Regions from separate parts of the Homo sapiens genome. Here regions 1, 2, 4, 5 and 6 are each reported to be linked to region 3. Evidence: microRNA targets listed by miRTarBase, many of them from high-throughput screens and not tested one by one. Region 3 holds a microRNA gene; each other region holds the end of a gene's coding sequence. Distances are from middle to middle.

Region 1 (5,144 bases), not on the chromosome of region 3:
CTACCACCTTCTCCCTCCCCACCCCCTCCAGGCCCGGGGCTGAAACAGCCCGAGGACAGCCCCAGGGGCTGGCTTTCACCAGCTGCAGGGTCTGCTTTTACTTGGGGTGGGGGGGCGGGGCTGACCCTGAACCCTCCCCCCCGCCAGGTCGGGGAGGGGTCCCACCACTCAAAGTGCCTCTAAAGAAACCAGCTTTTTGCACTAAAGCCAAACCACACCGCTGTCCCCTTAGCCCCAAGGGCCCTGGGGGCAGCCACCCTCCCGCCTGTCGGCCCGTAGATTTATCAAGGGTGTTATGGGCCCAGCTTTGGGGGGCCAGTCCCGATGCACTTTGAGGGGTGTTGGAGAGGGGACTCCCCCACTCGCACTTAACTCAACGGCTCTCGGGCCCTGGGGCTGTTTTTACCATGTTTGTTTTTGAAGCTCAGGTGTCTCACGTCTGGGCTGCACCAGGCGAAGAGAGAAATTAAAGATTTGAGGTTTTTCCAGAAGCTTTGTCTGCCTCTCGGGAGGAAGGCCGTGGGGCTGGGACCCTGTGGTGGGCAAGTGGGTGGAGTCTGGCAGCTGCCCACAGAGGGCCGAGGGTCACCCGTCGGCCGCCGCCACCCCAGGCGAGGCCGGAGGAAGGATCATCTGAGACGCAGGAGGCATCTGCTGGAGCAGCAATTTCCCAATTTATTGAAAGTGATCGCTTTGCAAGGATGTCTAAGCTAATCCCGTCACAGAAAGGAAACGCACAGGCGCCTAGGCAGAAACTTGGAGACTCACCGCAGAGGCCACGTGAACCCACGGCCACAGAGAGGCAGGACGGCAGAGCCATGATTTCCCACCGAGCGATTACGAGAACCTCTTCCCCCAATAGTAGACACATCTCCAATACAAACACAGGTTTATAATAAGTAATAGGAAGTCAATATAATATAGATTATCCCCAGAAAAAAATCAACAATCTTCAAACACTGCCCTTTTTTTGTGTGTTTTGTTTTTGTTGACAGGTTGAAAGCATGTTGAAAAAAATAAATATTTAAGAAAAGCACACACAGCACCCTCACTACAAGTAGTTCTAAAAGGGCTGCATACAAAACACAATATAAGATCTAAAAAAAACCACCACCATTAAGTATGGCTTTCTTAAGAGTCGCACATGTCACAGAATGAGCTAAAATAAGATTACTTCTTTTATAATATTGCAAAAAGTTCCAGTTTTTGCATTTTCTCAGTTTTTTAAAGAGGAAGATGTGCAAAGTTGGAAGCAGTAAGCTGCGTCTTCTGAGTCAGTTCCCTACGTAGCCCTGGCAGTGTCCTGTGTCCCAAAGCTCAGAGAGCCCCAGTGTACAACCTGGTCAGGATCCAGAGCTTGACAGAAAAATCGTGGTGTCCCTGCCCCCTCCCCGCCCCCAAATAACACCATCCCCAATGGACTGTATTTCCCACTTTGGTGTTGTAAACACCAAAATACAAACAGACACAAACAAAAATACAAAATGTGAAATGTAATCTACACATTTTTCCTCTTCATAAAAAAATATTTATTAGTTTGAACATCGATTTAAAAAAAAATCAGTCACATAAAAAAAACCCTTCATGACATGTCTTTTCCCTCCACGCCTCCTGAGATGGACGTGCTCACCTGGGCCTCGGAAATCCCACACTCTTCAGTCGGCAAACTGCGAACAAGAACAGGAAATCTGCCACGCAGCAAACACTTGGGGAGGTCAGTGGGACACTGTTGGTTTTAGGGAAGAAAATGCCCCTGTAGCTCCGGCGGGGAACCCCAAAACGGTCAGCAAAGGCAGGCCACACGGAGTGAGCCGGCCAGATGGAGCAGGACATCCTGAGTGTGGAGGGGGAGGCGGGCCTGGGTCCTGGGCAGGGTGGCCTGAGAGCAGGGACTGGTACAAAACCCAGAGACATTGGTGGGTAGCAAAGGTCTGGTTTCCAAATGCATTTTGTAAGAAAGTCAGTCTGTTTAGAAAAAGGGTTTAAAAATCAGGGGAAAGGTACAAAGTTCTGAGAATTCTCAAAGAGGCCGGGGTGGGGCTGGCCTGGGGTGAGGGCTGGAGGGCTCCGCTGCAGCTCCCTGGTAGCCATGCTCTCCCCCTGGGGGACTCGTGCCAGAGCCACCCACCTTGCTCGGTAAGAGTGGGCAGGGCTCACCGCTGAGGGGCCAGCGCTTGGCCCGGCTCCTATCCCCACACTCCGTGTGCAGAAAAATCTTGGCCTCTTTCTCCAGCTTTGAGGAGCCCACAGCCTCCGAGCTGAGGGGTGTGTGTGATGACAGCTCCAGCCAGGGCACCCTGTCATTGGTAGAACCGGGGGCCAATGTCAAAAAACAAAAGCCGTGACTCCTGCGCTGTACCTGGAGTCCTCCATGTACTCCTCCACAGGACCCCCGGCCAGCCCCAGCCCTCCCCGAGCAGCAGCGGTCAGGGAAGCTGGTGCTCTACCTGACAATGTGGGGAAAAGCCTGGTATACAGGCTAGAAAAAGAGAGTAAAAACTCTTTCCACGCAGCCCTGAAGCTCAGCACTCCGGGGGGTCTTCACACGGGCAGGTCCTGGAGGGAAGGAGGAGGCCACCGCGCCCACCTCCCATCTGAAGGCACAGCACCGCAGTGGTGGCCTGTGCCAGAGGAGGGGGTGAAGGATGGAATGTCCTCATGGTGAGTGCTGTCAGAGGCAGGCCTGAACGAGAAGACAGGCCGTGGCAACGGTCCCGAGGCTGTGAGTCTAGGCAGCCTGCCTCCGGGACCCCCAAAGCCAGGCGGTGCACCACAGCACACACCGTGGGACCTTTGCTTTTCACTCAGGAAAAGAAAGAACATGTGAGTGCTTCTGAAAACACAGCAAGAGGACTTGAGCACAAGCTAAAGGAAAAACAACCCTATATAGTTTCTTCGAGTGAGAAAAATAATGCCAAACAAAATAATTTTATGTAACTACCTCGATATGTCTCTGACTACTTAAAAATTTGGTTACCCACGCGGGGAGGTGTAAGCAGCACACTGCAGTTAGGAACACCGCCTCCAGTGTTAGCAGCAAAGGCAGGAGCCCAGCTCCAGCCCGTCCAGGAGGGGTCAGCAGGAGCGGCCGGGCTGGGCCATGGGCAGAACAGGACGGGCAGAGCCCGGGGTGGACGTGGCAGCCCAAGGCTCTCCGAGGAAGTGCACACGACTGAGCCGAGGCCCTTGCAGAGGGAACCTGGTGTGGCCTGAAGTGGTGGGGGGCACAGGGCTGAGGGTCCCCTCCTGGAAGGAGCCCCCAGGGCTGTGTCCACCTAAGATAGCACCTGGAGCCCTCGGCCTCCAGCAGGGTCTGCAGCTGTGTTGTGTGTTAAGCACCAAAGCCCAGAGGTAAGACGGTGGCAGGGCTCTCTGTGCACCTGGATTCTACAGGCTGCCATGGGCCACGGCTGCACCACGGGCCACGGCTGCAGCCACAGGCAGTGACCTGGCTGCTAGGGGAGGGGAGGGCGGGCTCCAGCCGGGCTGACCGGGTGTCTGTAAAACTCTGCACCTGCTCAGGCCAGGGGCCTCTGGGCCGAACACACCACCCCGCCCAGTGCCCACTGGACCCGGCCACAGGCCCATCACGTGTCCAAGCCAGGCTGGCCATCACAGGGGCCACTCACACACCCGCACCACCTGCTGGGGACTTAGGACCGTGCTCTCCCTTCACTCAAACCCACCCTGTGCCCTCCCCCAACTCACTTCATGTCTGGTCCCAGAGCACCCCTCTTGCTGGGGTCGCACCTGCTTAGCCCGCAGGGCTGGTTTCCGTGGGGGGTGGGTTCAGGGGGAAGCAGAGGAGGGGCCGCGAGAGGGGTGAGCGTGGCCCTGGCCCCGCAGTGGAGACCCACCGGACACACACACGGGTGGACGGAGCGAGGCAGCCACCGACCCTGCCGGCGGGCGGGCCTAGGAGAGCCAGGCGAAGTCCTTGTCAGGGCCTCCTGGGGGGCTGCGCGGCCGCGGCGAGTCTTCCTCATCCTTGTCGTCCGCCAACAGCGCATCCTCAGGGGCCAGGCCCTCGTCGTCCTCGCCCAGCTCCTCCGCCTCCCCTCGTGGGTCCTCAGGGTCCTCCAGATAGGGCCCGTCGCCTGGGAACAGCGCCTCTGGAGAGCCCTCGCCGCCTCCGCCGCCATGGTCCAGGGGCCCGGCCATGCCGCGGCCAGCACAGTCGGTGCACACACCGTGGCGCCTGGAGCCATGCCTGATGCCCACGCTGGCGGCGGACATGAAGACGCGGCTGCACACCTTGCACACATACTTCTTGTCCTTGCTGTGGACCTGCAGAGGCAGGGCAGGGGGTGAGCAGGGCCTGGTGGGTTGGGGGGCGGGGCAGGGGGTGAGCAGGGCCTGGTGGAGGTGGGGGGGGCAGGTGGTGAGCAGGGCCAGGTGGAGGTTGGAAGAGGGGGCAGGGGGTGAGCAGGGCCTGGTGGAGGTGGGGGGGGCGGGGCAGGGGGTGAGCAGGGCCCGGTGGAGGTTGGGAGGGGGGCCAGGGGGTGAGCAGGGCCTGGTGGGTGGGGGGGGTGCGGGGGTGAGCAGGGCCCGGTTGGGGTTGGGGGGGCACAGCCTCCCGGGCCCTCCGAGTGTCTGCACAGGCAGAGACTCCTGGTGGGGGAGGTGCGCAGACAGGAGTGCTCAGACCTTGAGCCCCAGCTCCTATCAGAGCCACACAGCAGAACTGCAGGTGGCACCAAGGCAGCCCTGTCCCAAGGGGATGCTGGCACGAGGGCGGCAGTGCCCCTCCCCCGCAAACCCAGCCCCTAGGTGGGCCAGTCTCAGCGTCTACACTGTGTGTCCAAGCACCCCCACCAGAGGCCCCCTGGGTTGACACACTTCTCACGGGGGTCACACCACCGGCCTCTGCCTAAAAGCCTGGCTTCCTCCAAACCTCCCTGCAGGACAGGCTGAGGGCCCCGCATTGGACTGGAGCTCACAGAGCTCTTCCTGTACCCAGCCGTACAGGGACGGGCCGGGGTTGGGGCTGCCAGCCGGGCAGGTGGGCCCACACCTCAGCCTGGCTGCGTGGACACCCCCTCAGCCCCTGACCCCCTCAGTCCCTGACCCCTCAGCCCGACCCTGACTCCAGGAACGTGTAAAGGAGGCAACTCCCCCACTCTCAGGCTGTTTCAAGGTCGACT
Region 2 (4,855 bases), not on the chromosome of region 3:
CCCTCGGTGAGATCTGTCTGGCATAGATATTTTATTCTTGTTTTATTTTCCCCCTCTCGCCTTCGCGCCAGTCATCATGCTACTACCCTTTCTTTGATACACCTGCCGTTTCATTTTTTGGTAGATCGTTCCATTCTGCATCTTTTGTGGTTTTTTGGGTGGAGGGGGGTGGTTTGAGACAGGGTGTTGCTCTGTCGCCCAGGCTGGAGTATGGAGGCACAAATACAGCTCACTGCAGCCTCAACCTCCTGGGCTCAAGCTCCGTACCTGTAGCTAGGACTACAAGTACATGCCACCATGTCTGGCTAATGTCTTTGATTTTGTGTAGAGGCAGAGTCTCACTGTGTTGCCCAGGCTGGTCTCAAACTCCTGAGGCTCAAGCAATCCTCTGGCCTCAGCCCCCCAAAGTGCTGGGATTATAGGTATAAGCCACCAAGCCCAGCCTTTTTTTTTTTTTCATTTGACAGCATGTCTTGGAAATGCATGTGTGTGTGCATGTGTAATATTTCGTGGCATGTCAGTCCCATCATTTGTTTATCCCGCCCTGGTTGAGGGACATGTAGGTGTTTATATTCGGGCCAGACTTCAAGCCCATGACACTCTGATTTGGAGCCCAGCTGAGGAGCCAGACCCAGACAGAAGCAAGGGCTTGCCTAGGCCTCACAGAACAGAGGCAACAGCAGACTCTGTCCTGAGGCCCAGGGCTCCTGGCCAGAGGGGCCAATCGCTGTTAACCCTACCCTCCCTGGTGCCTCCCCACAGGGGCAGCCACACCACAGTGGGCGTCGGCGGACGGCTTGAGGGGTTGACCCAGGACCTCCGACAGCTGCAGGAGAGCGAGCAGCAGCTGGACCACCTGATGAATATCTGTACTACGCAGCTGCGCCTGCTCTCCGAGGACACTGACAGCCAGCGATATCCTTGGATTGGCCGTAGGGTGTGGAAGGCAGGCTTAGCAGGCAGGGGCTCCACCCAAGTGGGACTAGAGAGGCTTGGATTTAAGAGAGAGCTCTGATTTTGGTTGCAAGTCCTGGCTCAGCATTTTCTCACTGTTGTGACACTGGATAAATTGCTTAACCTCTTGGCCTCAGTTTTATCTATAAAAGGGGAATAATAATATCCAATTCTGAAATTGTACAGATTAAAAAAGAAAAGTGGCTAGGTGCGGTGGTTCATGCCTGTAATCCTAGTGCTTCAAGAGGCTGAGGTGGGAGGATCACTTGAGCCCAGGAGTTTGAGGCTGCAGTGAGCTCTGGTTGAGCCACATCACTCCAGCCTGGGTGACATAGCGAGACCCTGCCTCTAAAAAATAAATTCCCAGCACCAGGCCTGGAGTTGTGTTGAACATTTTACATGGAATCGTTCCCGGTAGCCATTATTACCTTGGGATTCAATGGGTAGAGTGATTTCATTATACAGATGTGGAACTTGAAACTCAGGCGTGAGGTAGGTTTTGAGTGGGTAGGAGGTTGGGAGGACAGGAGTGACTAGGCAGGTGTGAGCCCTGCCTTGTGAGCTGTTGGAGTGAGTGACCCCCTAGAAGTCAAAGGTCATGTGGTCCTTGACTCTGCCAACCCTGGCCTACGTGACGTGTCAGGACCTTCGTAGCATTGCAGACCCTGCAGAGCAGATGGTTATGGTGATCAAAGCCCCTCCTGAGACCCAGCTCCAAGCCGTGGACTCTTCGGAGGTGAGATCTGGGAACTCCGGGCCCAACTGGGCTGGGCTGGGCTGGGCTGGTGGTCACCTGGGCCTCAGTTTACCCTGCCTGCTGCTTCCACCCAGAACTTTCAGATCTCCCTTAAGAGCAAACAAGGCCCGATCGATGTTTTCCTGTGCCCTGAGGAGACCGTAGGTGGGATCAGCCCTGGGAAGACCCCATCCCAGGAGGTCACTTCTGAGGAGGAGAACAGGGCCACTGACTCTGCCACCATAGTGTCACCACCACCATCATCTCCCCCCTCATCCCTCACCACAGATCCCAGCCAGTCTCTACTCAGCCTGGAGCAAGGTGGGTGATGGGTAGGTGGGTGGGGTGGGGCAGGGCCCCTCTTCTGGGGGGTGGGCAGGCACGACAGCCCCTGCCTTCCTCCCTGCTGGGGCATCCCCGGCCTGTGATGCTCCCCGTCTCCCCAGAACCGCTGTTGTCCCGGATGGGCAGCCTGCGGGCTCCCGTGGACGAGGACCGCCTGTCCCCGCTGGTGGCGGCCGACTCGCTCCTGGAGCATGTGCGGGAGGACTTCTCCGGCCTCCTCCCTGAGGAGTTCATCAGCCTTTCCCCACCCCACGAGGCCCTCGACTACCACTTCGGCCTCGAGGAGGGCGAGGGCATCAGAGACCTCTTCGACTGTGACTTTGGGGACCTCACCCCCCTGGATTTCTGACAGGGCTTGGAGGGACCAGGGTTTCCAGAGATGCTCACCTTGTCTCTGCAGCCCTGGAGCCCCCTGTCCCTGGCCGTCCTCCCAGCCTGTTTGGAAACATTTAATTTATACCCCTCTCCTCTGTCTCCAGAAGCTTCTAGCTCTGGGGTCTGGCTACCGCTAGGAGGCTGAGCAAGCCAGGAAGGGAAGGAGTCTGTGTGGTGTGTATGTGCATGCAGCCTACACCCACACGTGTGTACCGGGGGTGAATGTGTGTGAGCATGTGTGTGTGCATGTACCGGGGAATGAAGGTGAACATACACCTCTGTGTGTGCACTGCAGACACGCCCCAGTGTGTCCACATGTGTGTGCATGAGTCCATGTGTGCGCGTGGGGGGGCTCTAACTGCACTTTCGGCCCTTTTGCTCTGGGGGTCCCACAAGGCCCAGGGCAGTGCCTGCTCCCAGAATCTGGTGCTCTGACCAGGCCAGGTGGGGAGGCTTTGGCTGGCTGGGCGTGTAGGACGGTGAGAGCACTTCTGTCTTAAAGGTTTTTTCTGATTGAAGCTTTAATGGAGCGTTATTTATTTATCGAGGCCTCTTTGGTGAGCCTGGGGAATCAGCAAAGGGGAGGAGGGGTGTGGGGTTGATACCCCAACTCCCTCTACCCTTGAGCAAGGGCAGGGGTCCCTGAGCTGTTCTTCTGCCCCATACTGAAGGAACTGAGGCCTGGGTGATTTATTTATTGGGAAAGTGAGGGAGGGAGACAGACTGACTGACAGCCATGGGTGGTCAGATGGTGGGGTGGGCCCTCTCCAGGGGGCCAGTTCAGGGCCCCAGCTGCCCCCCAGGATGGATATGAGATGGGAGAGGTGAGTGGGGGACCTTCACTGATGTGGGCAGGAGGGGTGGTGAAGGCCTCCCCCAGCCCAGACCCTGTGGTCCCTCCTGCAGTGTCTGAAGCGCCTGCCTCCCCACTGCTCTGCCCCACCCTCCAATCTGCACTTTGATTTGCTTCCTAACAGCTCTGTTCCCTCCTGCTTTGGTTTTAATAAATATTTTGATGACGTTTGGGCCGGGTTTTGGGACTCTGTTGGGAACATTTCGGGGCGGGAGAGGCCAAGGTTGCTGGGGAAATGCCCATTCTCCACTTCCCTTCTCCCTGTCCGTGCCCGATTTGATTTGAGCCTCATAACTCGAAGAAAGGTCAGCTTCCTCGCTGTTTTGGTCCTAACTCAAAAGCAGATCCAGTAAAGGTTTTTGTTGTAGAAAGCCAAGAATGCTATTCAGTGCTGCCCGAAGTGCAGAGTAATGAGTGGCCTCTCCTTTCCCCAGCCCCAGAGGCCACTCTGCTCAGTTTGCTGTCTTCCTTCCAGACGTTTCTGGACATTAGTAAACATGTAACAAATACAGTGGGCTGGTTCTGTGTCAGGTATTTAACAGTTCTGGGGACACGGGTGTTACCTCCTTTCATGGTGCTCTCAGGGTCTGAAAGAGGAGATCTGCATAAATGAGAAAATCGGGAAAGGCGTTCTGGAATGGGTGGTGCTTAAGCTGAGCGCTGTAAAATAAGTAGGAGTTAACCAGAGGAAGAAAACACCAAGCAGAGGACACGATGGGCAAAGGCCTTGGGCAGGAGGGAGCGGGATAGAGGACCGGAGAGAAAGCAGTGTGGCTGCGGTCCTGAGGTGAGGGTCAGAGTGGTGCTCCTGGAGTGGGGCGTTCAGTCTTAAGCTTTATTCAGGGGCCAAGGAGTCACTGGAGACCGAAGTGACACCTCCTCTTTCGCATCTTAAAAGCTCCCCCCGGCTGCTGTGTGGAGAACGGGTTGAAGGGAGGGCCAGAGTCACGGAGGGGAGGGGAAAGGGCTGCGCTTAGTGCCAGAGAGGGCGGGCGTCGGGATGCCTGGGATTCGGCCGCACGGACCTGTGGGCTTCCTCTGCGCCAGCCCCCGTTGTAAGCACTTGACATTGAATGAGTCCCAACAATTGCATAGGGTGTCTGCCAGTACCATTTTTGTAGATGAGGATACAGACGCCCCAAAAGGTGAAGTCCTGGTGGGTTTTACCCACTTGTGTCACCCTGACCTCGGCACTGGCTTGGTCATCCTGTCCCTCTGGGTAGGCCCGCAGCCCCTAGGTTCTGCTCCCGACAGGCCGTCGCGGGACCGGAGCCCTCGGGCGCCTCCCCCTCCGCCGTGGCCGCGGAAGCGCGGAGGCCCGCGGCGCTGGAGTTGGACCTTGAGGCGAGGGAACCCGGCGTCCGCGGGGGCGGGGCGGGGGCGGGGCCTGAGCCCGCGCGTCGGCGCCGGCGCCAAGGGGCGGCCTCTAGCCACACCGAGTCCGCCGCGGCGTCCAGGGTCGGCAGCAACCGCAGCCGAGCCCGAGCGGGTGGCGGCGCCATGGCGTGCGCGGGGCTGCTCACCGTGTGCCTGCTCCGGCCGCCCGCGCCCCAGCCCCAGCCCCAGACCCCGCGGCACCCCCAGCTCGCGCC
Region 3 (4,882 bases):
CTTTTTTTTTTGAGACGGAGTCTTGCTCTGTCGCCAGGCTGAAGTACAGTGGCGCAATCTCAGCTCACTGCAACCTCTGCCTCCCAGGTTCAAGCGATTATCCTGCCTGAGCCTCCTGGGTAGCTGGGACTACAGGCACACGCCACCACGCCCAGCTAATTTTTGTATTTTTAGTAGAGATGGGGTTTCACTATGTTGGTCAGAATGGTCTCAATCTCTTGACCTTGTGATCTGCCCACCCTGACCTTCCGAAGTGCTGGGATTACAGCTGTGGGCCTCTGCGCCCGGCCGAGAACTTTAAATACAATATTGATACATACATACAGACGTCTTTAGACTGAAACAAAATCCTAAGAGCATACTTTCTCTTCAAATGCCTGCAGAGCATGTACAAATTATGATTATGTGTACACCAAGTCATACAAAAATATGCACCCCCATTAAAATAATCAAGTGTACTCAAACAATAATTTTCCCATAGCACACTGACAAAAATGAGAGAGACTGAACCTACCCAGTGCTGGTACAGCACAAATGAAAAATATGCATCCTCTTACACTGGAATTAGGAAGATCAGTTGGAACGAGGCTTCTGGAGCAATTTGACAGTCAACCTAATGATGTTTTAAGTGCACGGGCTCACTGACCCAGCTTCCACTTCCTGGAATTTGTCTAGTAGTGATACTTAGAAGTTTACAAAATATATGTATAATAATTGTTTGATGCCAATTTGGAATTGGTATAAACACTGCTACAACCACATAAATATCCATTCGCAAGGTATCAAAAGAGCAAGTTATATTTGCACACATACTGATACCAAAAGATGCTTATAACACATTAAAATGGACAGAATGTAAAACACAGGGCCCTGCCTATAGAATTATACTCTATGAAAATGCTCACACACATCACACTATGTTTAGACACAGAAAAAAGATACACTCTCACCCAACAGCAGCCCAGTGTAGGAGGGAGAGAGCCAGCTCCATTCAATGTCTATTTAGACACTTTGAGCCATAGCGCTTAATTTTGTCTTGGAATGATCATAAACCATTTCTTTACATCAGTCAATACATAAACAATTTAACTCAATAAAACTTTCATATCTAAAAAAACCTGGAATCTTGCCCTCTGGAATTTTCAGACAAAGACGATTCCACCCAGGGAAAGATGTGTGTAAGCGTTCCGGCAATCTCAAAGAGAGTGACCCAGACAGACCCTGAGCCTCTCTGCCTCTGCTCTAAGGAGCAGGACCCAGAGCCAAGGCTAACAGAGCCTCAGGTGCCTGTCCAAGCGTCTGTCCAGTGGCCACCGTCTTCTCTCTCATGTGGACGCAAGACAGAAGTCGATGGCTAAGTGCCCTTGAAGGCCACGGTGCGCTGGAAGTGGCAGGAAGCTGGGCAGCACAGGACTGGCTCTGCAGGAGCCCCACACTCAGGCAGGTCGGCGGCAGGCCTCGAGGTTTCATTATGGTGCACGCTCTCGGTGACTTTCCAAGGACAGAAAGTGTGAAGTCGTAAATGGATGGGCCCATGACATGCTTCTGAAGCTCAGAGCAGGACAAGCTTGCTTCCCAATCATGTGGGTCCCCCACCTACCAGCTCTGTGACCTCAGGCAAATTACTTCTTCCCTCCAGGCCTGAGATGATCTGGGGCTGTACTAAATGCTTGTAAAATGCTTAGTGCAGCCCCTCACAGAGGCCCTCAAACACCAGGAGCAACTGTGGCCACGACCTCAGTGGGAACATGAGCTTCTTCCCAGACAGCCCAGACGCCCAGTTGGAGGAGCACTCCCACCCCTCACACAACCCCTCATGAAACAACAAAGACACTGGGCAAGAAACCAGCTCTCCACATCACAACCTGACCTTTCAACATCACCCTTGTCAAAAAGCATCGAGGAAACCTGTGTGCCTCTCAAGTCAGCCTGCAAACCGGGGTCGCAGACTTGACTCCACATCCTCCCAGGTTTTATCATTCTTCTTTCACCAAGAGGAAGAATAAACCATCCATTTTGCACTTTGTGCTGTCAAAAACCAACAGTGACCACTATCAAGAAAAACAAAAGTCTCAAATCCAGAAAGCAAGCTGCAGTCACAAGAACTTCTACTTTGGGCAAAGAAAGCCCCGCTGTGTGCCCAGAGAAGAAATGACCCGGCCTTACCTGGATGGCTTTGGGAGCTCATTGCTAGCAATGTCCACTCCTTTAAGTGATTCGAAATGGCTCAAAATTTCCACGGAAACGATAGCTCCAACGAGCTCCAAACTCCCACCAACACATACAAGTACCGGGACGGTGAGGGCTGGGTCACAGACGTTCAAGCGCCGAGCCTCGCCGGCAAGGTCTCATGAGCCAGGTAACCCACAAGTTGAACAGAGGCGTCCGCTGGCTTCTGCAGATGAACCTGCAAGGTCAGAAGGAGAAAAGAGACTGGAGTTACAACATGGAAGTTCCGATCTGGAAAACAACATCCAACTAGGGAAATGATGACTTCCTCTTTTTTTTTGGAGACAGAATCTTGCTCTATCGCCCAGGCTGGAGTGTGGTGGCACGATCTGGGCTCACTGCAACCTCCACCACCCCTGCAACCCTGGGTTCGAGCAATTCTCCTGCCTCAGCCTCCCGAGTAGCTGGGAACACAGGTGCATGCCACCAGGCACAGCTAATTTTTGTATTTTTAGTAGAAACGGGGTTTTGCCATGTTGGCCCAGGCTGGTCTCAAACTCCTGACCTCAAGTGATCCACCCACCTCAGCCTCCCAAAGTGCTGGGATTACAGGCTTGAGCCACCACGCCCCACCAACTTCCTTCTTTATCCTTGTTCTGACCAAGGACTGATAGAACAGTTCGACGGAATCATTTCTACAAATACGAGCAGTGGGATTTTTGTTAGTAAATCACAGACATGTAAAAATGTCTCCAGAGAGCAGGGTTTCTCAGCCTCAGTACCACTGGGATTTTGGTTTGCGTATTTAGGTGTTGGGGTGTAGGGCTGCCATACACATTATAAGATATTTAGCAGGATCCTGGGCCTCCACACACCAGATGCCAGCAGCATCTTCCAGGTCATGACAACCAAGAATGTCTCCAGGGAGTGCCAAAGGTCCTCTGGGGGATAATATCATCCCCTGGTTCAAAATATCTGATCTAGAGACACCTTCCTTACCCCTTCCAGAAGTTTCTCCAACATTAGGCTTTTGAAAGGAAGCAGAGTATCTTCCAACTAATATAAATTTATTCTGTCATATTAGCTTATGAAATAAATATGAAATAAAATGTTTTAAAAGAAAAATCACTTTCAGCACATTCCCACCACAAAATGTCATTACTGCACGCTTGCATCAGCCTGGATCCATAGACATTCGTAGTCACAATGTCTGTGTAATCACAGAATTTAATTCTAAAGTCCGCATTCCTCACGTAACATGATAACCTAAAATAGTTCCCTCATGTTTCTGTCTTCATAATGACCATTTTCTCAGGTTTTCATTTTCTGCTTATAAAAGCAATACATGCGCATCACAGGTTAAGTATTTAAAAAGTCATCCATGATGCCATCACACACAGACAAGCCCTTGGTAACATTCTGACATGCTTCCTTGCCGTTGTTTTTCTTTGCCTTTTGCCCATACGAACCTCTAGTGATACAGCTGTCTATCACGTTCTCTGTGCTGATATTACAGCCAGGCATTTTCCAATGGCATTAACAATACCTGGTAAGCTTCGTTTTGAAGGGCTGTTTCCTATTCCATGTGTGGATAGACAGCTGCCCCGCCCCACTTCAGGAGCTTCGGATGAGCCTGCTGCTCCCAGGGAAGTGTCGGGCCAAAGAGTGGCATGTGGCACCAGCTGAGCTCATCAAGTTCTCTTTCCAAGGCCTGCCTCTTCAATAGATCAGTCACTAGATGAACCCAAAAGAGACAAGTCTCAGCACTCCTACCACTGAGAGTCCCTGGCTGATCCCAGCTCAAGTGCTTTCAGAGGCTTCTGTGTTCATCTTTCTTTAAAAGTGTGACCAATTCCTTTTCTTGATTTAATTAGTCTAGAAATTTTTTTTTTTTTTTTTTTTTTTTTTTTGCCAATTGCTTATAACCAAAGAACTCTAACCAGTTCATCATGTAAAGAATCACCCCCGCCCCCAAGGCTGGCTATCTAGATGCTTTCCAACTTTATGTTCATTGTATCTACAACTCTGATTAATATCTTCATGACTGTTGTTCTGTATCTGGTTATCTCCTTAGGAATGACAATGACTTATTTGTCTTCAGGGTCAGAATGTTTATTCATCTCTTGGTCAGAAAGAGACATTTTCTTGAAGGGAATGTAGATGGCATATTTTTCAAACCCTCACAAATCTCAGATGACAGTATCCTTCACACAAAAAAACACATCTCAGCTGGGTATAAAAATCTTAGATCACAAATATGCCCCCCTCAAAATTTTTGGATGTCATTCCCCCCTCAACATTGTAGGGAAGTTTAAGTCCAGCTCAATTACAGCTTCTTTCCAGGTAAAACTTTGGGGGCCGAGTCTTGATGTTGTGGTTGTTACCATTTTCTTCTGCCTGGAATCTACTGGCATTTTTTTCTTGAATCTTAAAATTCAAAAACGTTGTCAGAAGATACATAAGTAAGAGTCTTTTATTTTGTTCAAAACATGACTCTTTCAACAAATATAGGTCTTCTTTCTGCTCAGGAAAATGTTCTTCAATTATGTCACTGATTATTATTTTTGTTAAACTTGTTCTGGCTTCTTCAGAGTTCCTATGCTATTTGGCTGAAGTCTCCCCATCAGATCTGGCCTCTTTCACCGGTGACACATCTGTTGTTTATTCTGCATTCCCAGGCAGCCTCTCAAGTATGTTCTTCACTTCACTGCTG
Region 4 (4,237 bases), not on the chromosome of region 3:
GGTTTCACCACGTTGGCCAGGCTGGTCTTAAACTCCTGACCTCAGGTGACCTGCCTGCCTCAGCCTCCAAAAGTGCTGAGATTACAGGCGTGAGCCACCATGCCCAGCCTAGACTTGGTTCTTTTGGTTTTATGGTAAAGTAGAACCTTGAAGGAAGTTCCATCTGATTAATGACTAGTTAAATGTTTTATCTATCCTACTTCCAATTCCACAAAGGCAAATGGATATGTCACCTAGGAAGTTTAATAATTTGCCCATTTCTGATTGTTTTACTGGAAACAAATTAGACGTATACCCTTAGTATTTGAAATTAATGATAGCGGCCAGGCATGGTGGCTCACACCTGTAATCCCAGCACTTTGGGAGGCCAAGGCAGGTGGATCACCTGAGGTCAGGAGTTCGAAACCAGCATGGCCAACATGGCGAAACCCCATCTCTACTAAAAATACAAAAATTAGTCGGGCGTGGTGGCACACACCTGTACTCCCGGCTACTCGGGAGGCTGAGGCAGGGGAATCACTTGAGCCCAGGAGGCAGAGGTCGCAGTGAGCCAAGATTGTGCCACTGCACTCCAGCCTTGGTGACAGAGCCAGACTTTAAGACTCACAAAAAGGAGAAAAGAAAAAAGGATAGGCCAGGCGCGGTGGCTCACGCCTGTAATCCCAGCACTTTGGGAGGCCGAGGTGGGTGGATCATGAGGTCAGGAGATCGAGACCATCCTGGCTAACAAGGTGAAACCCCGTCTCTACTAAAAATACAAAAAATTAGCCGGGCGCGGTGGCGGGCGCCTGTAGTCCCAGCTACTGGGGAGGCTGAGGCAGGAGAATGGCGTGAACCCGGGAAGCGGAGCTTGCAGTGAGCCGAGATTGCGCCACTGCAGTCCGCAGTCCGGCCTGGGCGACAGAGCGAGACTCCGTCTCAAAAAAAAAAAAAAAAAAAATTAAAAAAAAAAAAAAAAGAAAAAAGGATAACATTTACTATGTTGACAGGAAATCAGAGATCATTATTTGAATAGTGGAAATGAATCAAAGACATATCAGGGCCGGGCACGGTGGCTCACGCCTGTAATCTCAGCACTTTGGGAGGCTGAGACAGGCGGATTACTTGAGGTCAGGAGTTCGAGATCAGCCTAGCCAACATGGTGAAACCCCATCTCTACTAAAAATGCAAAAATTAGCCAGACCTGTTATCTCAGCTACTCAGGAGGCTGAGATGGGGGAATTGCTTGAGCCAGGGAGGTGGAAGTTGCAGTGAGCCGAGATCGTGCCACTGCATTCCAACCTAGGCAACAGAGCAAGACTCCATCTCAAAACAAAACAAAAAAAAAGGACGTGTCAGGCAGCTAAAATATTAATAAATGATCTTTTGGAAATTTAACCCATTTCAATTTTTGTCAGCTGTTAAATAGACCACTCTGGGTAAGAAAGGATTAATGATGATGTACTATGAAAATAATTACTGAGAAATTAAGCCAAAAATAAAATTCTCTCCAGGCATCGCCGAATGGAGGCTGTGCGACTGCGAAAAGAGAACCAGATCTACAGTGCTGATGAGAAGAGAGCCCTTGCATCCTTTAACCAAGAAGAGAGACGAAAGAGAGAGAACAAGATTCTGGCCAGTTTTCGAGAAATGGTTTACAGAAAGACCAAAGGGAAGGATGACAAATAAAGATTTTCTGATTGTCCAGAAGACATTTTTAACAACAAAAAAGAAAGTCTGGGTTCCACACATACATAGAAAAAGATTATTATGTTCTGAGAAAGCTTTACAGTGCTACTGTGCCTTCTATTTAATTCTTTCAGTCCTTCAATAAAAAGCTGCTTATTGATATAACTTTAGCAAGTTCTTTGGGTTATTTTGGATTGACCATAGTAACTTTCTGGTTTAAAAATCCAAATTATGGGCTGGGCACGGTTGCTCACGCCTGTAATCCCAGCACTTTGGGAGGCTGAGGCGGGTGGATCACTTGAGGCCAGGAGTTCGAGACCAGCCTGGCCAACATGGTGAAACCCTGTCCCTACTGAAAATACAAAATCAGCCAGGAGTGGTGGCGCACACCTGTAGTCCCAGCTACTCGAGAGGAAGAGGCAGGAGAATTGCTTGAACCTAGGAGGTGGAGGTTGCAGTGAGCCGAGATTGTGCCACTGCACTCCAGCCTGGGCGACAAAGCAAGACTGTGTCTCAGAAAAAAATAAAAGGCCAGGCACGGTGGCTCACGCCTGTAATCCCAGCACTTTGGGAGGCCAAGGCGGGTGGATCACCTGAGGTCAGGAGTCGAGACCAGCCTGGCCAACATGGTGAAACCCTGTCTCTACCAAAAAATACAAAAATTAGCCGGGCGTGGTGGTGGGCGCCTGTAATCCCAACTACTCGGGAGGCTGAGGCAGGAGAATTGCTTGAATCCAGGAGGCGGAGGTTGCAGTGAGCCGAGATTGTGACATTGCACTCCAGCCTGGGCAAGAAGAGTGAAACTCTGTCTCAAAAAAAAAAAATCCAAATTATGAATAAAATGCTACTGTATTGGAGGAGGTGGCTTGAACAAAAAGTGTTAGTGAGATGAGAAACTTCAATCTCACACCATGAGACAGTGCTACTATTAGCTCTATGTGATGCCTGCCCCACCCCGACCTCTACCCCAGCTGAACTTTTGGGAAATTATCACTCCTCTGTGTTGAATGTGTTATAAATGGACTTGATAGGAACATATAGGAGGCCACTTTTGTTAACAAAATGAAGGCATTGCTGCGAAAAGCAAATCTGGAATTTGAAAACTGACTTGTGTACTATAATATATGATCTACCCTGGAAATAATGGGTTTTGATTTAAGTCCCTACCTCCACTCTAAAACCAACAAACAAACCAAAAAGCAAACTAACCCACAGATTTGTTGAATTGAAAATGTGAACATTAGATATTTTAAATTGTTTTTTTTGAGATGGAATCTCGCTCTTGTTGCCCAGGCTGGAGTACAATGGGGTGATCTCGGCTCACCACAACCTCCACCTCCTAAGTTCAAGCAGTTCTCCTGCCTCAGCCTCCTGAGTAGCTGGGATTACAGGCATGTGCCACCATGCCTGGCTAATTTTGTATTTTTAGTAGAGATGGGGTTTCTCCATGTTGGTCAGGCTGGTCTCGAACTCCCAACCCCAGGTGATCCGCCCGCCTTGGCCTCCCAAAGTGCTGGGATTACAGGCATGAGCCACTGCGTCCAGCCTAAATTCTTAATAAGTTACTTAAAAATAGTTATTTGAAATATAAAGTCTTAAGAAGTCTACTCTTATCCCCATGTAAATACTTTATTTCAATCTGAGCTGATATGAGCTTGAGGATAGGATAACATCCAAAAGAATAGGAGTCAACTATGGTCAAGAGTTTTGATAAGGAAAAATATAATGAGTCAGTATTTTAGCTTAATTGTTTCATAAGAGAAACTAAAATGATATTAAATATTTTTAACTGTCTTTCATATACTAAGTAGATTTCATTTTAAACACTTAAACCTTTCTGTTTGTTTTTAAGTTGGGGAGAAATGGAAAATTGTGGGACTATGATATCGTGGTCTTGTTCCTTTGTTTATTTCGTTCAATTTTAATTAGGTCAGAAGAGTGAATGGGGGAGGGAACCCAGGAAGTTTTGGCTGTTTTCATTAAGGTTGGTTTTCTGTTTTTTGTTTTTTGAGATAGAGTCTCACTCTGTCACTCAGGCTGGAGCCCAGTGGTGTGATCTCGGCTCACTGTAACCTCTGCCTCCTGGGTTCAAGTGATCCTCCCACCTCAGCCTCCCAAGTAGCTGGGATTACAGGCACTCACCACCACAACTGGCTAATTTTTGTATTTTCAATAGAGATGGGGTTTCGCCATCTTGGCCAGGCTGGTCTCGAACTCCTGACCTCAAGTGATCTGCCCGCCTCAGCCTCCTGAAATGCTGGGATTACAGGTGTGAGCAACCGTGCCTGGCCGTTTTTGTTAAGGTTATTTGATCTGCATTATTATTACATGCCTATGATAAATTTAAATTACCTGAGTGATAAGGACATTCTGATTATACTATTGTAAAATGCCCGCTTGCCTTATATTTTTAAGTGGTTGTTTTTCAAAAGTGTTTAAATAAGGCAGTCATATTTCAAAGTATAGAGCAAAAGTTTTTTTATTATTATTTTTGAGACAGGGTCTCCCTCTGTCACCCAGGCTAGAGTTCAGTGGTGCAATCTCGGCTCACTGCAACCTCCACCTCCTG
Region 5 (4,599 bases), not on the chromosome of region 3:
TTTATCCAGTCTGTTATTGATGGACATTTAGGTTGGTTCCAAGTCTTTGCTATTGTGAATAGTGCCTCAATAAACATACATGTGCATGTGTCTTTATAGTAGAATGATTTATAATCCTTCGGGTATATATCCTGTAATGGGATTACTGGGTCAAATGGTATTTCTAGTTCTAGATCCTTGAGGAATCATCACACTGTCTTCCACAATGGTTGAACTAATTTACACTCCCGCCAACAATGTAAAAGCACTGGACTTTTTTTTTTTTAAGTTAAAAGATCACACACAGGGTGTGATTTCTATACCAAAGATATGCTTATTTCAGTATGAGGAAAAATATTTTTCTTACATGTCCTGAAAATTGCAATTTTAAAAATGTACAAAATAAATTTTTATTAAAAGCAAATTTTATTTCAAAAAAAAAGAGTGAAAGACAACCAACTGGATAGGAGAAAGTATTTGAAAGTCATATATCTGATAAGGGATTAATATCCAAGAATATAAAGAACTCTTACAACTCAACAACAACAACAAAATAACCTTATTAAAAATTGGGTAGAGTGCTTGAATAGACATTTCTTCGAAGATATACAAATACCCAATAAGCACATGAAAAGATGCTTGACATCATCAGTAATCAGAGAAATGTGAATCAAAACCACAATGAGATACCACTTCACACCTGCTAGGATGGGTAGAATAAAAAAGATAATAGGTATCGGAGGTGGAACAATTGGGGCCCTTATATACTGCTCATGGGAGTATAAATGGTACAGTCACTTTGGAAAACAGTCTGGCAGATCCTCAAACAATTAAACATAGAGTTATTATATGACCCAGCAAGTCTACTCTTAGGTATTACCAAAGAGAAATGAAAACACAAAAGTTTGTACATGAATGTTTATAGCAGCATTATTCATAATAGCCAAAAGATGGAAACAACCCAAATGTTCATCAACTGACAAATAGATAAATTATGGTGTATCTATGCAGTGGAATATTATTCAGCCATAAAAGGGAATGATGTACTGATATGTGCTGTAACATGGATGAACACTGAAAACATGCTACATGAAAGAAGTCAGTCACAAAAGACCACATATTACATGATTTCATTCATCTGAAATGTCCAGAAGAGGAAAATCTATACAAGCAAAGTAGATTAGTGGTTGCCCAGGACAGAAGGCTTAGGAGGTGATGACTGATAGGTAAGGGGTATGTTTTGTTGTTGTTGTTGTTGTTTTTAGGTGATGAAAATGTTCTGAAATTGCCTGTGGTGATGGTTGCACATGTCTGTGAATATGCTAACAACTATTGAATTCTACACTTTAAATGTGCGAATTATATAATACGTGAACTACATCTCAAGAATGTTTTAAAACTGGTGTTGGGAAAACAGGACATCCACATGTAAAACAATGTATGTCAGATCCTTACCATACACCATGTACAACAATTAACTCAAAATGGATTAAAGACCTAAATATAAGAGCCAAAACTACAAAAACTCTTAGAAGAAAACATAGCAGTAAATATTCGTAAGTTTGAATGTGGCAATGGTTTCTTAGATATGACACAAAAAACACAAAAGAAAAAAGATAAATTGGACTTCACAAATTAAAAGCTTTTGTGATTCAATGGACACCATCAAGAAAGTGAAAAGAATGGAATACCGATACATTTTACACATCAATGTACCTTGAAAACATTATGCTAAGTGAAAGAATCCAGACACACAAGGACACATATTGAATGAATCAATTTATATGAAATGGCCGTATAGGCAAATCCGTAGAGATAGGAAATAAAATTAGTGTTTGCCAGGGGCTGTGAGTAGAGAGGAAATGGGGAGTGTTGCTAATGGACATGGGATTTCTTTTTGGAGTAATGAAAATGTTTTGCAACTACATAGTCATTATGGTTGCACATCCTTGTGAATGTACTAAAAAGTACTGAACTGGATACCTTAAAAGGCTGAATTTTTTTCATTTCTTCTAAAAAAAACCAGGATAGATGTGCAGAACGTGCAGGTTTGTTACGTAGGTACATGTGTGCTATGGTGGTTTGCTGCATCTATTGACCCATCCTTTAAGTTTCCTCCCCTCACCCCTCACCCCCCAGCAGGCTCCGGTGTGTGATGTTCCCCTCCCTGTGTCCATGTGTTCTCATTGTTCAACTCCCATTTATGAACAAGAACATGCAGCATTTGGTTCTCTGTTCCTGTGTTAGTCTGCTGAGGATGATGGTTTCCAGCTTCATTCATATCCCTGCAAAGGACATGATCTCATTCCTTTGTATGGCTGCATAGTATTCCATGGTGTATATGTACCACATTTTCTTTCTCCAGTCTATCATTGATGGGCATTTGGGTTGGTTCCAAGTCTTTGCTATTGTAAATAGTGCTGCAGTAAACATACGTGTGCATGTGTCTTTATAGTAGAATGATTTATATTCCTCTGGGTATGTACCCAGTAATGGGGTTGCTGGGTCAAATGGTATTTCTGGTTCTAGATCCTCGAGGAATCGCCATACTGTCTTCCACAATAGTTGAACTAATTCACATTCCCACCAACAGTGTAAAAGCGTTCCTATTTCCCCACAGCCTCACCAGCATCTATTGTTTCCTGAGTTTTTAATAATTGCTATTCTGACTGGTGTGAGATGGTATCTCATTGTGGTTTTGATTTGCATTTCTCTGATGATCTGTGATGTTGAGCTTTTTTTCATATGTTTGTTGGCCGCATAAATGTCTTCTTTTGAGAAATGTCTATTCATATCCTTTGCCCACTTTTTGATGGGGTTGTTTTTTTCTTGTAAATTGTTTAAGTTCCTTGTAGATTCTGGATATTAGACCTTTGTCAGATGGGTAGATTGCAAAATGTTTTCTCCCATTCTGTAGGTTAAAAGGCTGAATTTTATAGCATGTGAATTATATCCCAATTTAAAAAAGAATGCATATGTCTTAGTTCAGGCTTCCATAACATAATACCATAGACTGGGTGGTCTAATTGTTCAAAGCTCCACAGAAATTAGTTGGAGAAGTTACAAGAGTCCATTAATCATCTTGCTTTGTTAGTAGCAGCGGGCATGGTTCAGCATTTTCTGCTTAAGTTTCTCTGAGCTCACCAAAACTAAAATGATGTTGTAATACTTTTTTTTTTTAATTGCACATCACTCCTTTATTATACTGATCTGGTAAAAGGATTTAGTACAGTTATGCTCAGATGAACACTGGGCCCATGTGGCAGGGTCAAGCAACTAGAACATGATTCAGAAATCAGTGAAAGACACACTTGGACAGGACCAAGAGGCATTTCACTGCCATGAAACAAGGCAGGAAGGGATTCTAATACACACACCAGGAAGCACTCCTGCCCCTCAGAGGTCAAGGAGCTGATCCTATATTGGTATGAGGAATGGCTTATTTTCTGATGACCACATGTGGGACTATTTCAACCGCCACAAGAAACCCCAGAAGGGTTATTGTTTTGTATTATTAATATATACTATACTTTTTTAATAAAAGTAAATATAACACATAACGAAATTCAGGATTGATCCCAACCTAGAGCCAGATCCTCTGGGGTCAAGGAGGAAACAGTTGTCACATCACCATGCAGATTACATTCATCTTCCACTGGAATGACTAGAGCCCCCAGGCAGTGGCCTGACTGCAGAAGAGCAGAGGACAGACTCTGCTCATGGGGACAGACAGGCTCTGTTGCTTCTCCTCATTGGTCGTGGCTTAGCATGTTCCTCCCCAAAGTCCTTAGTAAACAAAGCACTCACAAAAACCCAAGTCACTACTTTTAAACTCTGTTGGATAAGGGGAGCTTTTCCACAGCTTAGACTGAGAACCTGTGCTCTAGAACTGCTATTCTGACTAGATTGTATGAAGGGAGTGGGTGCAGGCGACAAAATGGCTAAAATGAAAATGGGAGCCACTGGTCCCCATCTGCAGCTACAACTCAAGATGTCTACAGATGTGGTCAGTGTGACATGTGCAGGTGGGAGGGGCAGAGGGACAAGACCAGCAGGGAGGGTGCTCCTGGGGACAGTATCCTCCCCGCTGGCCTTCACTTCTTGGCCTTGCCCTGGGCAGCCACAGCTTCTATGGCTTTGCACACCGTCTCTTCATCCCCCAGAAACTGCATGGGCTTGATAGGCTTCAAGTTCTTGTCCAATTCATAGACGATGGGAATACCAGTCGGCAGGTTCAGCTCCATGATAGCCTCTTCAGAGAGACCCTCCACATGCTTGGCAATGCCCTGGAGGCTGTTGCCATGGGCTGCAATCAGTACACGTTTCCCCTCCTTGATCTGGGGAACTATTTCTTCATTCCAGAAGGGCAGAGCTCTGGCAATAGTATCCTTCGGACTCTCATAGGAGGGTAGCTGATCTTCTGTGAGGTCTGCATACCTGCGATCCTTACTGATGTTGCTGTAGAAAGGATGGTCGGGCTCCATCGGAGGTGGTGGGACATCATAGGAGCGCCTCCAGATCTTCACCTGGGCCTCACCATGCTTTGCAGCAGTTTCTGCTTTATTGAGACCGGTTAGACCCCCATAGTGCCGCTCATTGAGGCGCCAAGTCCTCACCACT
Region 6 (3,000 bases), 200 Mb from region 3:
TTGAAGATGGCAGCATGTCTGTGACCGGAATTATGGGACATGCTGTGCAGACTGTTGAAACTATGAATGAAGGGGACCATAGAGTGAGGGAGAAGCTGATGCATTTGTTCACGTCTGGAGACTGCAAAGCATACAGCCCAGAGGATCTGGAAGAGAGAAAGAACAGCCTAAAGAAATGGCTTGAGAAGAACCACATCCCCATCACTGAACAGGGAGACGCTCCAAGGACTCTCTGTGTGGCTGGGGTCCTGACTATAGACCCACCATATGGTCCAGAAAATTGCAGCAGCTCTAATGAGATTATTCTGTCGCGTGTTCAGGATCTTATTGAAGGACATCTTACAGCTTCCCAATGAGAGGCCAGGAAGTGTGAACATACTGATAGAAAAAGACTATATTTTATCCCTCATAAAATGTTTTAAATGTAAATGTACATGACTGTGTGTGTGTATGTGTGTGTGTGTATAATTCTTTGTTGTTTTGGTAAAATCAGAGGAGTGGGTTATAAGTGCTAATTTCCTTGGGAAATTAATGAACTAGGGCAAGTATAGCATCCCATGCATAAAATTAGCACAGGGACATCAGAATTGTATGGGTCTTCTTTTTTCTTTTTTTCTTTTTTTTTTGAGATGGAGTCTCGCTCTGTTGCCAGGTTTGAGTGCAGTGGCGCAATCTCAGCTCAGTGCAACCTCCGCCTCCCAGGTTCAACCGATTCCCCTGCCTCAGCCTCTCGAGTAGCTGGGACTACAGGTGCACGCCACCACTCCCAGCTAATTTTTTGTATTTTAGTAGAGATGGGGTTTCACCTGTATGGGTCTTTTCTTGTGATGGGGTTACACCCCCATTTTTGTTAGGCAAGAAAAGCATTTGGAAAAAAATGTAACATGTTAGATTCAATATAAAATATTATGGTAAGATCATGGTCTTGTTAAGTCTCTTCACTAACTGTATGTGTCTGTTTTTAAAAGATGTGTCTTGGTGGGGCGCGGTGGCTCACGCCTGTAATCCCAGCACTTTGGGAGGCCGAGGCAGGTGGATCATGAGGTCAGGAGATCGAGACCATCCTGGCTAACACGGTGAAACCCCTTCTCTACTAAAAATACAAAAAAAATTAGCCGGGCGTGGTGGCAGGTGCCTGTAGTCCCAGCTACTCAGGAGGCTGAGGCAGGAGAATGGCATGAACCCGGGAGGCAGAGCTTGCAGTGAGCCGAGATCGCGCCACTGCACTCTAGCCTGGGTGACAGAGCGAGACTCCGTCTCAAAAAAAAAAAAAAAAATTATTGGAACACAGCATTACCTATTGAATTACAGTTTTCTGGTTTTTTTGTGGAGTTTTTGTTTTGGTTTTTGAGATGGAGTTTCACTCTTGTTCCCCAGGCTGGAGTGTAATAGTGCAATCTCGGCTTACCACAACCTCTGCCTCCCAGGTTCAAGCAATTCTCCTGCCTCAGCCTCCTGAGTAGCTGGTATTACAGGCATGCACCATCACGCCCCACTAATTTTGTATTTTTTTAGTAGAGACGGGGTTTTTCCATGTTGGTCAGGCTGGTCTCAAACTCCCGACCTCAGGTGATCCGCCCGCCTCGGCCTCCCAAAGTTCTGGGATTACAGGTGTGAGCCACCGTGCCCGGCTGTTTTTTGTGGGTTTTTTGTTTGTTTGTTTGTTTTTGAGACAGAGTCTTGCTCTGTCACTCAGGCTGGAGTGCAGTGGCACAATCTCGGCTCACTGCAACCTCTGCCTCCTGAGTTCAAGCCATTCTCCTGCCTCAGCCCCCTCAGTAGCTGGGATTACCAGGCACATAGCACCATGCCCAGCTAATGTTTGTATTTTTAGTAGAGACAGGGTTTCACCATGTTGACCAGGCTGGTCTTGAACTCCTGACCTCATGATCTGCCTGCCGTGGCCTCCCAAAGTGCTGGGATTATAGGCATGAGAGCCTCCGTGCCTGGCTTTTTTTTTTTTTTTTTTTTTTTAAAAGAGGGTCTTGATATGTTGCCCAGGCTTGTCTTCAACTCCTGGGTTCAAGTGATCCTTCCACCTTGGCCTCCCAAAGTGCTGGGAATATAGGTGTGAGCTGCCATGTCCAGCTGTAAGAAATATTTTAAAATATTTAAGCTTCAGGGCCTTTGAATACAGGCCCTGATAACATAGCTATTTTCCTGCATAGTTGTCTAATAACAAGATGGTATAGCCCAGTGCTTCTTGCACTTTAGCAAGCATCAGAATCAGCAAATATTTAGGTTTCAGGGCCTTTGAATACAGTCTGATAACACAGCTATTTTCCTGCATAGTTGTCTAATAACAAGATGGTATAGTCCAGTGCTTCCTGCATGTTGGCAAGCATCAGAATCAGCTGCAGGGCTTTTCAAAACAGATTGCTGGACCCTCCTCCCAACAGATTCTGATTCAGTAGTTCTAGTTGGGACCCAGGAATTTGCATTTCCAACAGACTCCCAGATAATGATGTTACCGTTCCCAGACCACACTTGCAGAAGCAGTTCAGAAACTTCAGGGGAACAGAAAGTTCCTCCCTCACGGCTTCAAAGTTCCATGATCCTGAAAGCAAAATTTAGCACACATCACCTTTCTCCTAGTGGCTAAGACTCTCCTGTTCAAACCCTGGATGTCTTCAGAAAGCAAATAGAAGGGGAATATGAACAGACTGAAGTCAGCAAGGAAATGACTGACAAGATGAGGGAGGCCTTTGAAAAGGAAGAAGCCAGCTGGGCGCGGTGGCTCACGCCTGTAATCCCAGCACTTTGGGAGGCCTAGGCGGGCCGATCACTTGAGGCCAGGATTTGTGACCAACCTGGGCAACATGGTGAAACCCTGTCTCTACTAAAAAAAAAAAAAATAGCTGGGTGTGGTGGTGAGCGCCTATAATCTCAGCTACTCAGGAGGCTGAGGCACTCGCTTGAATCTGGGAGGTGGAGGTTGCAGTGAGCCGAGATTGTACGCATTCCAGCTTGGGCAGCAGAACGAGACTCTGTCTCAAAAAA

What was found. The annotated mature microRNA hsa-miR-2467-3p reads AGCAGAGGCAGAGAGGCUCAGG and lies in region 3 at 1,221-1,242, opposite strand. An mRNA with a match to its seed (bases 2 to 7 or 8) in the 3' UTR can be bound and repressed. Matches are read on the target gene's strand: a 7mer-m8 pairs with bases 2 to 8, a 7mer-A1 pairs with bases 2 to 7 and ends in A, and an 8mer does both.
Region 1: miRTarBase lists ZBTB46 as a target of hsa-miR-2467-3p. Seed matches in the 3' UTR shown: 7mer-m8 at 3,800-3,806, 8mer at 3,188-3,195 and 7mer-m8 at 770-776.
Region 2: the mRNA of E2F1 is a reported target of hsa-miR-2467-3p. Seed matches in the 3' UTR shown: 7mer-A1 at 2,428-2,434.
Region 4: the mRNA of NKAP is a reported target of hsa-miR-2467-3p. Seed matches in the 3' UTR shown: 7mer-m8 at 3,741-3,747.
Region 5: the mRNA of PGAM4 is a reported target of hsa-miR-2467-3p. Seed matches in the 3' UTR shown: 7mer-m8 at 4,014-4,020 and 7mer-m8 at 3,679-3,685.
Region 6: miRTarBase lists GEMIN6 as a target of hsa-miR-2467-3p. Seed matches in the 3' UTR shown: 7mer-m8 at 1,414-1,420 and 7mer-m8 at 1,733-1,739.

The regions. Positions count from the first base shown.
Region 1 is chr20:63,743,015-63,748,158 of GRCh38, forward strand. ZBTB46 (zinc finger and BTB domain containing 46) reads right to left here. Exons shown (of 5, transcript NM_001369741.1): 5 at 656-4,287. The coding sequence ends at 3,916. ZBTB46-AS2 (ZBTB46 antisense RNA 2) reads left to right here and starts at 811. Exons shown (of 3, transcript NR_186425.1): 1 at 811-1,714; 2 at 2,514-2,661; 3 at 2,809-2,937. It overlaps SLC2A4RG (SLC2A4 regulator), which reads left to right. Exons shown (of 8, transcript NM_020062.4): 8 at 1-1,036.
Region 2 is chr20:33,674,261-33,679,115 of GRCh38, reverse strand. It overlaps E2F1 (E2F transcription factor 1), which reads left to right. Exons shown (of 7, transcript NM_005225.3): 4 at 763-915; 5 at 1,576-1,690; 6 at 1,786-2,011; 7 at 2,137-3,639. The coding sequence ends at 2,384. NECAB3 (N-terminal EF-hand calcium binding protein 3) reads left to right here and starts at 4,688. Exons shown (of 12, transcript NM_031232.4): 1 at 4,688-4,855. The coding sequence starts at 4,764. RefSeq lists enhancers at 3,661-4,161, 4,832-4,855 and a silencer at 4,348-4,855.
Region 3 is chr2:239,350,512-239,355,393 of GRCh38, forward strand. MIR2467 (microRNA 2467) reads right to left here and starts at 1,293; the gene lies at 1,213-1,293. It overlaps HDAC4 (histone deacetylase 4), which reads right to left. Exons shown (of 27, transcript NM_001378414.1): 2 at 2,167-2,407. The coding sequence starts at 2,188. RefSeq lists a silencer at 1,956-2,149.
Region 4 is chrX:119,922,651-119,926,887 of GRCh38, reverse strand. It overlaps NKAP (NFKB activating protein), which reads left to right. Exons shown (of 9, transcript NM_024528.4): 9 at 1,494-4,237. The coding sequence ends at 1,668. Among named protein-coding and RNA genes, the nearest start is that of NKAP, 19 kb to the left of the region's middle.
Region 5 is chrX:77,964,801-77,969,399 of GRCh38, forward strand. PGAM4 (phosphoglycerate mutase family member 4) reads right to left here. Exons shown (of 1, transcript NM_001029891.3): 1 at 3,149-4,599. The coding sequence ends at 4,074. All of the region lies in intron 1 of ATP7A (ATPase copper transporting alpha), which reads left to right. It also overlaps the pseudogene C4orf46P2. Among named protein-coding and RNA genes, the nearest start is that of PGAM4, 2.5 kb to the right of the region's middle.
Region 6 is chr2:38,781,537-38,784,536 of GRCh38, forward strand. GEMIN6 (gem nuclear organelle associated protein 6) reads left to right here. Exons shown (of 3, transcript NM_024775.10): 3 at 1-3,000. The coding sequence ends at 356. Among named protein-coding and RNA genes, the nearest start is that of GEMIN6, 4.8 kb to the left of the region's middle.